Linked DNA regions of Homo sapiens: all the other regions are reported to be linked to region 2. Evidence: microRNA targets listed by miRTarBase, many of them from high-throughput screens and not tested one by one. Region 2 holds a microRNA gene; each other region holds the end of a gene's coding sequence.
The links. The annotated mature microRNA hsa-miR-433-5p reads UACGGUGAGCCUGUCAUUAUUC and lies in region 2 at 2,127-2,148, opposite strand. An mRNA with a match to its seed (bases 2 to 7 or 8) in the 3' UTR can be bound and repressed. Matches are read on the target gene's strand: a 7mer-m8 pairs with bases 2 to 8, a 7mer-A1 pairs with bases 2 to 7 and ends in A, and an 8mer does both.

Region 1: the mRNA of GNL1 is a reported target of hsa-miR-433-5p. The part of its 3' UTR that is shown has no 7-base or 8-base seed match.
Region 3: miRTarBase lists TMPPE as a target of hsa-miR-433-5p. The part of its 3' UTR that is shown has no 7-base or 8-base seed match.

Annotation. Positions count from the first base shown.
Region 1 is chr6:30,542,612-30,546,750 of GRCh38, forward strand. It overlaps GNL1 (G protein nucleolar 1 (putative)), which reads right to left. Exons shown (of 12, transcript NM_005275.5): 11 at 4,085-4,139; 12 at 1-3,702. The coding sequence ends at 3,461. Among named protein-coding and RNA genes, the nearest start is that of GNL1, 12 kb to the right of the region's middle.
Region 2 is chr14:100,879,906-100,884,044 of GRCh38, reverse strand. It overlaps MIR433 (microRNA 433), which reads right to left and starts at 2,159; the gene lies at 2,067-2,159. RTL1 (retrotransposon Gag like 1) reads left to right here. Exons shown (of 4, transcript NM_001134888.3): 4 at 1-4,139. The coding sequence ends at 3,333. MIR431 (microRNA 431) reads right to left here and starts at 3,038; the gene lies at 2,925-3,038. It overlaps MIR127 (microRNA 127), which reads right to left and starts at 1,066; the gene lies at 970-1,066.
Region 3 is chr3:33,088,918-33,093,052 of GRCh38, reverse strand. TMPPE (transmembrane protein with metallophosphoesterase domain) reads left to right here. Exons shown (of 2, transcript NM_001039770.3): 2 at 1-2,631. The coding sequence ends at 219. The region is part of intron 1 of GLB1 (galactosidase beta 1); the gene reads left to right. Among named protein-coding and RNA genes, the nearest start is that of GLB1, 6.2 kb to the left of the region's middle.

The DNA of each region.
Region 1 (4,139 bases), not on the chromosome of region 2:
TGTCTCTCTCCCCTACACAGCAAAACAATCCCAAGACATGTCAATTCTATCTCCTGAGCAACCCATAAAACGATTTCTCTTCTTTCCATCTTCCATTACCCTAATTCTGGTGTTCATTCTCTCTCCCTGGGATGGCTGTAAAAGCCTCTGATTTCTCCCCTTTCCAAACCAGTCTCCACACTGCAACCATAGTGATCTAAGGCACAATTCTCACCTTTTCAGTCTTAGGCTTAAAGTTCAACATCCCTCTGGATACAGTCTAAATCTTTAACACGGCTGAAAAGGCCCAGCAAGAGCTGGACCAAGCCCACCTCTCCAGCTTCACCTTTCCTCATTTCTCCTTTGCACCCTCTGCCTCTGAACAAGTTACAGTCTTCCAAAGTTGTCATGTTTCTTGACCTTTGCTGTCTCCTCTGCCCAGAATGCAATTTCCCTGTCTGGCTAACTCCTGTCCAGCATTTGGCCTCAGCATGGACATCTGTTCCTCTAGGACGCTTCCCCTGATTCACCAAGACCAGCTTAACTGCCCCTACTGGCTGTTCCTATAGCAATTCTTTACCACAGACTACTGATTTTTTGTGTTTGTTTTGTTTTGGCAGTCTGACATAACTTTATACTAATGCAGCTTCTAGCCCTGTCCCCCACTCCTTCCTGATCAGTATCCCAATGTCCCTCCTATATGGAGCCACCACTACCCCACAGGATCCTGTACCACCCTTCTCCCAGAACTTATCACACTTTTTTTTTGTAATTGTGTTTCCATTCTCCAATAAATTGTGAGCGCCACAAAGAACCATTTCTATCTCACTTACCACTTGGAAGTGACTGGCAGGTAGTAATTGCTCAACAAATGTTCTATGAGTGAATGAATCCTTGGGATAATTATAGTACTAACCATCTTATTTAGTTATGACAGTTCAATAGAAACACGTAAAATAATGCTTTTATAGTTTACATACTGCTATAGAGCTATTGTATTATATTATTATTATTCTATTCCTACCCTCTATTGCTTGAGAGTAGGATATTGCCTTATTCAATTTTGGTTATTGTCCCAGAACTCAGGGATATATGTCTGGCATATATTGTTTTTAACCAATTTTTGTTGACTGTATCAATGATTGTAAGAAGTGAACAAAGGGCCAGATAATTGAACTATCCTGGACCACACACAGCTACCCTGTTCCAGAAGCAGGACTATAATCCCATCTGGAAAAAGGGAAACTTGGAAGTTGACATCTAAATGAAATTCCAGCATGGATGAGAGAAGCCCTGATTTCTCTCCATCAAGAGACTAGCCAGCTATGGAAGCCACCAGAGCCCCAGACCTCCATGGTCAAGTATTCACATAGTAGACATGACCCAGACAAGAGGGTGCGTATTTCAGCGTGGAGGGGAGACTGGGCCCTTGGTTTCCTGTGTCTTTGTAGTCAGTTCTAACCTCAGCCTCAGGCACTGGTGTTGGGGCCCTATTCATCCTCATCTGCACGTCCCTCAGTTCTTTTCCTGTTGCTATTATCCTATAGAGTCAGCAAGTCATGGAAGAGGTTTTACAGTCTAACCCTGTGGGGGTGTCAGGAGTTGCCTCCTGCCAGGTCTTCAGCATAAAAATCCCCCCTCCTCAGCTCCCAGTCAATTCTTCATCCCCACCCCTAGACTCTCCCAAATACCCCTGATGAAACCCCTGAGGTGGAAAAAGATAAAGACAAGCAAAGATAAACAGCACAGGAAGCAGAGGTACAAATAGAATTCTGATTTTTCTCCTTTCTCTCCATATTTTGAGGAAATGAATCCAATGTCCTCACCCCACCTCCTGCAGCGGAGAAGTCCCCTGAGCATCTCTGAACATCATGAACCCTCAAAGTAAGCTTAGCTTGGGCCCCTTTTCCTTTTCTATCAGTGAGGCCAAAGAGCCCCAGATGGGAGACAGGTGGATTTTTCTCTCAGCTGGGACCTTTTCTCTTTCTTGTCTAGCACATTTTGGGAAACCTTCAAGTACATTCTCATGCTGGTATTATTTAAACTTTGCACTGGAGTGAATTCCAGGAGTTATGTCCACACTGAGACCAATGGAGATGAACCTAAAGCAATATGTGGCCAAACACCTTAGCCTCTTTAAATATACTTTCCTTTGCTCCTTGGTTAACAGGGTCTGTCTGCTCGCATTAGAGAAACTGCCCAGTGACTCAGATCCTGAAAGGATCTGCTTTAGAGAAAAAAGGAGTCTGGTACTTCTCACTCCATCTAGTGGGCAACCTGTCCAACTACACTTTTTGCTATCATCCAATACAGACAACACTGGCAGTCAATAAAAAAGCTCATTCTCCCATTTCTAAAAGAATTCAATCTAGGAGTCTAGCTGCTGGCTTAACAAAGGGATATACAGCAAAGCCTAAGGTGCCCTGACTCACGAGAGAGCTGATTTCTGCCGAAATGCTGAGGTGAAACCCTAAAATGGTTCTGGCCACCTGCTAGGTTCTAGCTCAGACCCTGCACTGGATCATCTTTGTTCCACCCCCAAACCAGAGTAAATGGAATTCAGGAGGCTGGTTCTGTGCCCGCCCCTATGTACCTCAAATACTCGTAGCTGCCAAGCTTTTAAACAATGAAACTTAACACTGTACTTAAAGGGCTGTTCTGCTCAAATCATAAATGTGCACGCTAGTTGTTCACCAGTAATTAAAACTACTCGTACACATTTAATCAACATTTTCACAAGCGTTTTGCCTTAACTAAAAATTTGTATCAACATGAAGTCCTAGAATTATACTGCATGAGCCCCCAGGATTTGGAGAACATCATTCACCCTTCTTAATCCAAAAACTTGGGTGCCTGAAGGTGGGGTTTTGATCATGGCCAGGCTTCAAATTTAGGTCAGGCTCTGGTGGTACATCCTTATATGCTTGGTGCTCAGCACAGGTCAAGACACACAATAGACCCTCAATAAATATTTGCTGAATTTGAACAATTCCTGTAAAAATCTCATTAAGAGACATCAGCTTGGGACACAGTTCCTCTCTTACTGTTCCTTCTCCCAGAAGCTCCTGGAATGAGCAGGTCTGGCGGCAGGGGGCACACAGGGCTGCTGCTCAAATCGGAGAATGGCACAAACTCCAAAAGGGAGCTGGATTTAGACCTCCCCTCCCCATGTAGATAACGGGATTCCTAAGGTGCAGAGTGGGAGAATGGGTAGAGGAAGCAGGTTTCAGAGACTGAGAACCTACTAAACTCCTAAGAGAACTTTCCCTTGCAAAGAGAATGCATGAAAAAAGAAGGGAGAAGAGGAGAGAAGCCTCCCACAGCTGTTAGCCTGGAACAGCCGCTCTCACCTCAGTTCATCTGGGGAAGGGGCTACAAAGCAAACAATCTTTATTCACAATTGGGGTGGCAGAGGGGAGATACCCCCAGGTCAGTCCAAAAGCAAAGATACTGGGAGGGAAGATGGCGCTGGGCGAGGAACTCAGCACTCATCCTCACCCAGCAGGGCATAAGGGTTTCGGCCAGCCAGGCTGGACCCTGGAGCCGAGGTTGGGGTCTCCTCATCCCCTTCTCCCTCCTCATCCGCATCCCGGTCCTCCTCTCCCTCCTCCTCACAGGAGCTGCTCAGCTCTTCCTCTTCCTCCTCCTCCTCGTCACCTGCTGGCCCCACCCTGCCCTGCAAAACCACCAGCTCCGTGGTCTCTGGATGGGACTCCCAGGTGCCTGGGGAACCAAAACAAGAAAAAAATGGAGGAGAGTTTTGAGCAAGAACTAAAGCCAAGGAAAGATGGGGAAGAGGCAAAGACTAGGAATAACAATAATCTTTAGAGCTGCTGGCATTCATTCATTCATCCATTCATTCAACTTCCTATGTGCAGATTGCTGAACAGAACCTTTGTGCACATCAACTTCAATCTTTACAATCACTATGCTAAGGGTCAATTATTACCCTCAGTTTGCAGATCAGGAAAATATCACAGATGTTAAGTAACAGAGCTAGCCAACAGGTACAGAATCCAGGTTTGACCCTCTCTCTGGCCACAAAGCCCACACCCTTTTACCTACGCTATAGCAGGGGGCTGGGGAAGAATATCTGGGCTCTGACCTTTCTGTTCACTGTAGCCTGGGGGATGAAAACACAGGCTGAGGCGGCCGTCCAC
Region 2 (4,139 bases):
GCATTAGAATGGGCCAAAGCTCTACTGCAGGAAAACAGCCCCCTGATCGGAGACTTCCCAGCCTTCCTGGAGGCCATGTCCGAAGTGTTTGAGTACCGCCAGGCACTGCGTGTGGCAGAAGAGGCCATGTTCACCATCAGGCAGGGCGGCCGCTCTGCCACTGAGTACATCGATGAGTTCCAGAGCCTGGTACCCATCTTGGGCTGGCCAGATGAAGTCCTGCAGGCCCACTTGTGCCAGGGGCTCAACGAGGAGATCAGGCACTATCTATTCCGGGTCCCTCAGCCGGATTCCCTAGACAGTCTGATTGTGCTCATCCTGCAAATAGAAGAGAAGCTGGCAGAGAGAAGAGCTATGCTCAGGCTGCCCCCCGAGGCCCGCCCCCGGAACCTGACCTGGATCGACTCACCTGCTCCAGAGAGGTGGATGGTCAGCAGCTGGTTGCCCAGCGAAGTCCATCCGGACATCAATCGCGCCCACCTCTTCCTGCTGCTCATGGTGAGAGTGAACCCCTACCACAGCGTCGCGGTCCAGGCCCTGGTGGATTCGGGAGCTGACGGCAACTTCATGGATGAGAAGTTCGCCCAAGAGCACTACGTCGAGCTCTACGAGAAGCCGTACCCACAGCCGGTCCAATCCGTGGACGGCTCGCTGATTGGCAACGAGCCTGTCTGGCTCTACACGGAGCCCCTGGTGTGTATCCACCAGAACCACCAGGAGTCCATCGAATTTGACATCGTACCTTCACCGAACTTCTCTGTGGTCCTAGGCATCCGCTGGCTCCGAGTCCACGCCCCCGAAGTCGACTGGATCAAAGGCCGCTGCACCTTCCACTCTCCCTACTGCCTGAAGAACTGCTTCCGCCCGCCCCCGCCATGCATTGCCCTAGAGAGGCACGGCATGAGCCTGCTACCCGGACTGCCACACCCATACTCAGACCTGGCCGACGTGTTTAACCCGAAGGAAGCAGATGATGAGACTTCCGACCAGCCAAGCTCAGACGGATCCGATGATCTTTCTGAATCAGAGCCCTCTGAGCTTCAGCAGGCTGGAGACAGTGATCACAGCGAGACCTTTTACGAGTGTCCCTCCACCGCGCCTTGGGAACCTGTGGGTGCCAGGATGCAAGAAAGAGCCAGGCTACAGGAGGAATACTGGGACCTGCAGGACATGCTGACCAACAGACAGGACTACATACAGATGATTCCGGAACTGTTTGACCAGTTACACGGAGCCGAGTGGTTCACAAAACTGGAGCTGCGTGGGACCATTGTGGAGGAAAGCGTGAACGGGCACCGCACCGAAGATGTGTGGAAAGCAGCGTTTGGTTTGGAGCTTGAAGAGATGAAGAGCTACCAGCCGTTTGCGCTCTCCCCAGACCCTATCATACCTCAGAACGTGATTCACTTCATCCTAAAGGACATGCTAGGGTTCTTTGTGCTTTCTTATGGCCAGGAAGTCCTGATCTACTCAATGAGTCAGGAGGAGCACCTCCACCACGTCCGCCAAGTCCTGGTCCGCTTCCGCCATCACAACGTCTACTGCTCCCTGGACAAGAGCCAGTTCCACCGCCAAACCGTGGAATTCCTGGGCTTCGTCGTCACCCCCAAAGGGGTGAAACTGAACAAGAACGTCATGACCATCATAACAGGGTACCCTACCCCTGGCTCCAAGCTATCTCTGCGAAACTTCATCGAATTCGTCTTCCCCTACCGCCACTTCGTGGAGCGCTTCAGCATCATCGCAGAGCCCCTGGTGCGGCAGCTGCTGAGCTCCTACCAGTTCTACTGGGGAGTCGAGGAGCAAGAGGCCTTCGAGTGCCTGAAGAGGGCTTTCCGCAAGGCGCCTCTCCTCCACCACCCCAAGCCCCAGAACCCATTCTACTTGGAAACCGGCGTCACCGGCACGGCCCTGCACGCCTCCCTGATCCAAATCGACGACCAAACCGGCAAGAGAGCCTGCTGCGCTTTCTACTCCCGCAACATCTCCCCTATCGAGGTTGAGTACTCTCAAGCGGAGATGAAGATTCTTCCAATACGGGCTGCCTTCATGGTGTGGTGCCGCTACCTGGAGAACACCGAGGAGCCCATCATGATCCTTCTCAACACAGAGGATCTAGCCTCTCTGAATAATGACAGGCTCACCGTACTTCTCCCCGGGCATTGGGTCTTCTTCTTCTCCCACTTCAACTTTGACGTCATGGAGCTGCCAGAACAAGACGGCGGCCGAGCTCTGCCACCTGTGAGAAACCTCCGGTGGAGGAGAGCCTTCCAGAGGAACACTGCCGCCAGGCAAACCCTGCTGCTGGCCTCAAGGGGATTCCCCAGGGATCCATCGACGGAATCCGGGGAAGAAGAGAATGAAGAACAGGATGAGCTCAATGAACAGATCCTACGGCAAGAGCTGCTGGCCATGATACCCATCGACCAGATCCTCAACAGCTTCCTCGCCCACTTCAGCATGGCCCAGATCAGGGCCGTCATTCTGCACTTCTTCCGAGGCCTCCTGTACTGGAAGAACACCCTAGCCCTGGCAGCCATCCTCGTGCTACTGCGCGTGAGGCAATGCCTCTCGCTGCGGCCGGCACCCGCCATGCGGGTGGCTCGGCCCCAGCCCCAGCGCTCCCTACGACTCATCCTGGATTCGTCCCTCATCGCAGGCAGCAGCATCACGACAGCCATCACCCAGCTGCTCACCCAGATGCCCGCTCTCGTAGGTGCAAACACCATCCCAGCCCAGGAGCTGGCTGAGCTGTTCCTGGGCCCTGGCCGCTGGCAGCGAAATGCTCTGCACTCCCAGGCCCACCGAGGCCTGCAGTTCACCCCTGGCTTCTGGCTGACGCTGTGTGAGTTCTTCGGTGTCAGAGTCACCCCCCAGGAGGGCCACCTCCCTGCCCTGCGTCAGAACCGCTACCTGGAGCTGCACGTCGTTGGTGATGAGGATGTCGTCTTGCGAGAAGCCCTGCAAGACGACCTGCAACGTTACCGTCAGTGTGGCCTGCATGACGGCCTGCAAGACACCTCGCAGGACAAGCAGGACAACGACGTGCAGGAGGCCCCACCCAGCCACACAGCAGCCACCCACCCACCCCGCCCACGCCACCTGATGGATCCCCAGGTCCTGGAATTCCTTGGTAGCCGCCTGCTCCACATCCACAGTGCAGATGGCCAGCTGCACCTGCTCAGCCGGGAGCAGGCAGCCAGGGCCCTGAGCCAGTTCCTGACCCTGATCTACAGGCGGGCCCTGCCCATCCCCGCCTGGGAGAGCCAGCCCAGGGAGCAGGCAAGGCTAGAAGAGCTGCCTGATGAGGACGAAGATGCTAACCTCGACTGAAGACGCCTCCCTGTCTCCAGCAAAGAGTCCCCTCTATTTCTCACCCCAACACCTCCCGACGTCCCCTGGCCTCCCCGCGCCTCAGCCTGCTTCGCTTCCCTTCCTGCCACTCCTGACCCAAGAGGAACCCACTTGTGAAGGGCAACAACTTCTTCAACTCATCAACCAGCAATGCCACCTGTGCTAACGGACTACCCAGTCCTCAGAGACCCAGCGCCAGCCCTGGGCTACGAGTTCTCCGTTCTCCAGGTCCCAAGCCCATGCCCGGGAGTGACATCCATGAGGGAGAAAGCAGTGGTGAGCAGGAAGTGACCCCATGACGCGTGGCCAGATGAAGAAGCAGGCACAGCAGGCGCAGCCAAGCAAGCAGGTGACGGGGCCCCCCACCCGGCCTGGTGATGGCCACCCTGGGACACTGACCTCGGGTGCTCCACTGACTTCTTCTACCTCCACTGCCGGTGCTCCTGCTCCCCTGAGCTCCCGCCCCCGCCCCCCAACCCCCATCCCCCAACCTCCCGACATCTGATGATGTGGTGCCTCCCTCACCCCCATCACACCCTGCAAGCAAACCCACCCCCACCCCCACCACATCTGCTTCAGCTTTTTTGACCCCGCCTTCCTCTTGCCCTGAGCTCTGGACTTACCTGGACAAAGCCGCTCTTTGGGGCATCCGGACGTACCAGTGCCACTTACCAGACTTGCACAGCAAAGAGGGCCCCTGCATGCCTTGGGGCGCCTTTCCCTCCCAACACTGAACACTGGACAGTGCAGGGGTGCAGGGGCCCCTCATACAGGGATGGAGTCCC
Region 3 (4,135 bases), not on the chromosome of region 2:
CCAGATATTAACCTGATCCTTTCTGGGCACACACATGCTGGGCAGATCTTCCCCTTGAACGTAGCAGCCTATCTCCTGAATCCCTTCTTTGCTGGTCTCTACCAGGTGGCCCAGGCTACATTCGTGTATGTCAGCCCAGGCACAGCCTACTACGGGATACCCATGAGGCTGGGTAGCAGGGCCGAGATCACAGAGCTCATCCTGCAGCGGTCTCCCTGAACTGGCCCTGCCCTGTGCACCTCTGCCCTGCCCTTGTCCTCGACCCTCCATCCTGCTTCAGAGTGGTTTGCCTGCTTTTCCCCTCCAGCCTTGCCCACTCATCCTTGCCTACACACCCTTGGTCACAAGCCTGACTCAAACAGTGACTTATGGTGGGCCTGCCTGGCATGTTCAGGCTGGTTTAACTATTTCCTTGGCCAGTTGCTTTTTTTGATGCACTTGTGAGATCACTAAGGTCACATATATTAGCACTCCCCTCTATTTTCCAGATGATGTGGAATGGGGACCTTCTCCTGCAGAGCTCCCAGGGATGAACCTCCCCTCGGGGTTGCTAGAAAGGCATACCTCTAGAAGGTGGGGCGGGGAGGAGCAGGAGCATTTTTCTCCTGGTGTTTTAAAATTGTCTTTAGGACTTAAGTGGTTTCCAGAATCATTGATCCAGAGCCTTTCTGGGGAAGGGGTAGTGTTGCCAGGTAATTTGGGAGAACAGGCAAGATGGAAGGGCCCTCTGGCTGCTAGAGAAGAATATTTTCTTTTCCTCTGATTCTATCAGGATCACCTCTATTGAGGGCATCAGCAAAATCTACTGGAATGCAAAGCTCCTCCTGTTCCAGGCCTTGAGGGATGCTATTTAACTGTCTGTGCTCCTGGGCCTTTGGGGGCAAGGTCAGGGGAGAAGAACGGTGGGCGCCATGGTCGGTGATGGTGAGAACATGGCTGCTTAGGAATTCAGAGGGCTTTGCCTCCCTTGTCTCATTTTATACAACCCTTCGGGGAGCTCACTGGGGACAGGCTGCTTTTCCCTATTTGGAGATAAGGAAACCAAGGCAAAGAGAGATAGGGCACAGGCAGTATGACAAGATATGTAGGAGATTTGGGGCTAGAAACCAGGTCTTGTACCTCCCAGTAAAAGCGGTGCTTTTGCCCTTTTGCCAGAAGCAATAGATCCTTTGATCCTGAGATGGAGATAAGCACCCGTGTTAGAAAAGGCCTCACTGAGAAGACAGGGCTGGGCTGGTTTCCTGCTGGGTGATTTAGGCTTGTGATGGAAAGTCTTCCTCCAATGGGGAGTGAAGACACTCGCTCTGACTGGAGAGGCTAACCCTGCTGCTCACTCATAGGGCAGCGTTGGGTGGGTGACTTTCCCTCACTCAGCCTTGGTTTCCATCAACCCTAAAATGGGGATAATTATCGTATCTACCTCAAGATTGTTTTGTCAGGAGGGATCCATCAAGCCTTGTGCATGAGTTCCACATGGCACAGCGTGCACAGTAAACACTCAATGTTAATTTTTCAACGTTCCAGTGGAGCTTGCTAAGGAACTCTGTTGGGCACAGGTGCCCAGAGGATTCATGGAGCAGCCAGTCCTGGGGAATGTGAGTGGGTAGCGAGCTGCCTGCTGCTGGGGCAGGTGATGTGTCAAAGCAGCAACTGCTAGGGGTTTGCCTTCCTTCCCTCATGTGCATTCTGGCAGGCAAAGGGGGTTTCTTCCTTTCCTCCTTGTCCTCCTGGTGTATAGTGGGGTTCTGGGGGATCTGGAGACCACCCTTTTTGTTCCCAGGCAGCCACGGTATTGACAGTGGGCCATACCATGCAGTTTAAAATGTATCTTTGAGTTGAAATTTTGGTGGTTTCCTTATTCTTTTTTCTCTCTTCACTGTCCTTCCAAACTCACTTTTCTTGTGTCCCGACCGCATTTTGTGAATCATCCTTACTCCCTTTAAGTTCTCGCTTTGGATTTCACCAGGTGGGCTAGATGGTGCCATTTCACTTCCACTGTTTGATGCGGCTGGTAATGTTTGACTCACCTGTTACGTGTTATTTCACTGGTTTCTTGATTTTACATCTTTCTCATCAGTGACCTGGGCTTGATGAAATTAGCTTTCATTAAGTCCTATTTTTTTTTTAATTTTGCATCCTTACCTCTTTTCTTTCTCTTGAATGCCATCATTGTGTGGTCTTATGTACCCTTCATCCACTCTGAAGTCCTTGCTTGACTGATTGCTTTCTATTAGCAGAAAGAAAACAGGTCCATCCTATGTATCTGAGAAACAACATCAACACCCTCTCGTATGTGGTTTGTATTCCCTGACGCGGCGGACATTTTTGCAGCAGAAATTTCTCCATCACTGTCCAGATTCTGGCCCTGGTGGGCAGGTCTCCATGACACCTTTAGTCCCTTTGTTCAACATTCTTAAACCATGGACCTTTTTGTTTGTTTGTGGCCGGGGGAGGTGGTGAGAAACGTTACTTGAAGCTTGATCATTCTTTCAATTTCATTTGTTTCTTTATTTTTAATCTGTTAGATGCAAATTGAAATGCAATGCTTTTTGAAAATCAGCAATAGTGTCTGTAGTATATGATGCTGTCACAAAATCTCAATAAATTGATCCTGCTGCCATTCCTTCCAAATACCCATCCATGCTTTTCTTCCCCTCGTGTTTTGTTTGGTTTGTTTTAAACTTTTCGTACATGTACCTCTCTCCCAGCTTTAACAAGCATGACGAGACCACTCTGCCATCCTTTCTCAGCTACCCCTGCCCCACCTGTACTCTTTATTTTTTGGCTGGAGTATATTAAGGTAAATCATAGAAAACATAATGTTACCCCAAAATTACTTCAGTATGAATCCTTTTTCAAAAAGCATAGCTATAGTGTCATTATCATATCCAATGAAATTAACAGTGATTCTTGAATATCATCTAATAGCTAGTTAGGAGATTTGGGGCTAGTAGCCAGATTTTTGACCTCTTTAAAGAAGTGTTCTTTCCACTCTCTGAGTATTAAGTAGCTGTATCTGTCACAAATGAGTACAGAATTCAAATGCAGTTAACTGTGTGAAGAGTTAGTGTTTAGTTTTTCCTGATTATCTCAACTATATTTTTTATTGTGGCAAAAAAATTACTATCTTAACCATTTTTTTTGTTCTTTTTGTTGTTGTTGATCTTAACCATTTTTAAGTGAATAGTTCAACAGTGTTAGGTATATTCACATTGTTGTGAAATTGATCTAATTGATCTGTAGAACTTTTTCATCTTGCAAATCTATATACCCATTGAGCAACAAGGCTCCATTTCCCCCTTCCTCCAGCCCCTGGTGACCACAATTCTACTTTCTGTTTCTATGAATTTGACTGCTTTAGATACCTCGTATAAGTGAAATCATGCAGTTTTTGTCTTTTTGTGGCGGGCTTATTTCAGTTAGTATAATGACCTTAAGGTTGTGGCACGTGACTGGATTTCTGTCCTTTTTAAGGCTGGACTACAGTAATACTCTTGTATTTTCATGCCACATTTTGTTTATCCATGTTGAGCATGTTTTCATGGGCTTGTTGGCCACCTGTATACCTTCTTTGGAGAAATGTCTATTCAAGTCCTTTGCCTATCTTTAAATCAGGTTATTTAATTTATTGTTGTGGAGATGTAGGAGTTCTTTATATATTCTGGACATTAACCCCTTATCAGATACGTAATTTGCAGATATTTTCTTCAGTTCTGTACATTGCCTTTTCACTGATTGTGACCTTTGATGCACAGAGTTTTAAAGTTTAATGCAGGCCCATTTCTCTATTTTTGCTTTTATTTTGGCATCATATCCAAGAAATCATTGCCAAGTTCAATATCACGTAGCTTTTTTCCCCATGTTTTCTTCTAGGAGTGTTATAGTTTTGGGTCTTACGTTTAGGTCTTTAACCCATATTGAATTAATTTTTGTGTATGGTATAAGATAAGGGTCCAACTTCATTCTCTTGCCTGTGAATATCCAGTTTTCCCAGCACTGTTTTCTGAAGAAATTGTCCTTTTCTAACATCAAGAGATCTTGGCATCTTTGTTGAAAATCATTTGACCATATACACAAGAGTTTGTTTCTTGGTGTTCTATCCTCTCATTGCTCTATGTCTGTCTTTATGTCATTA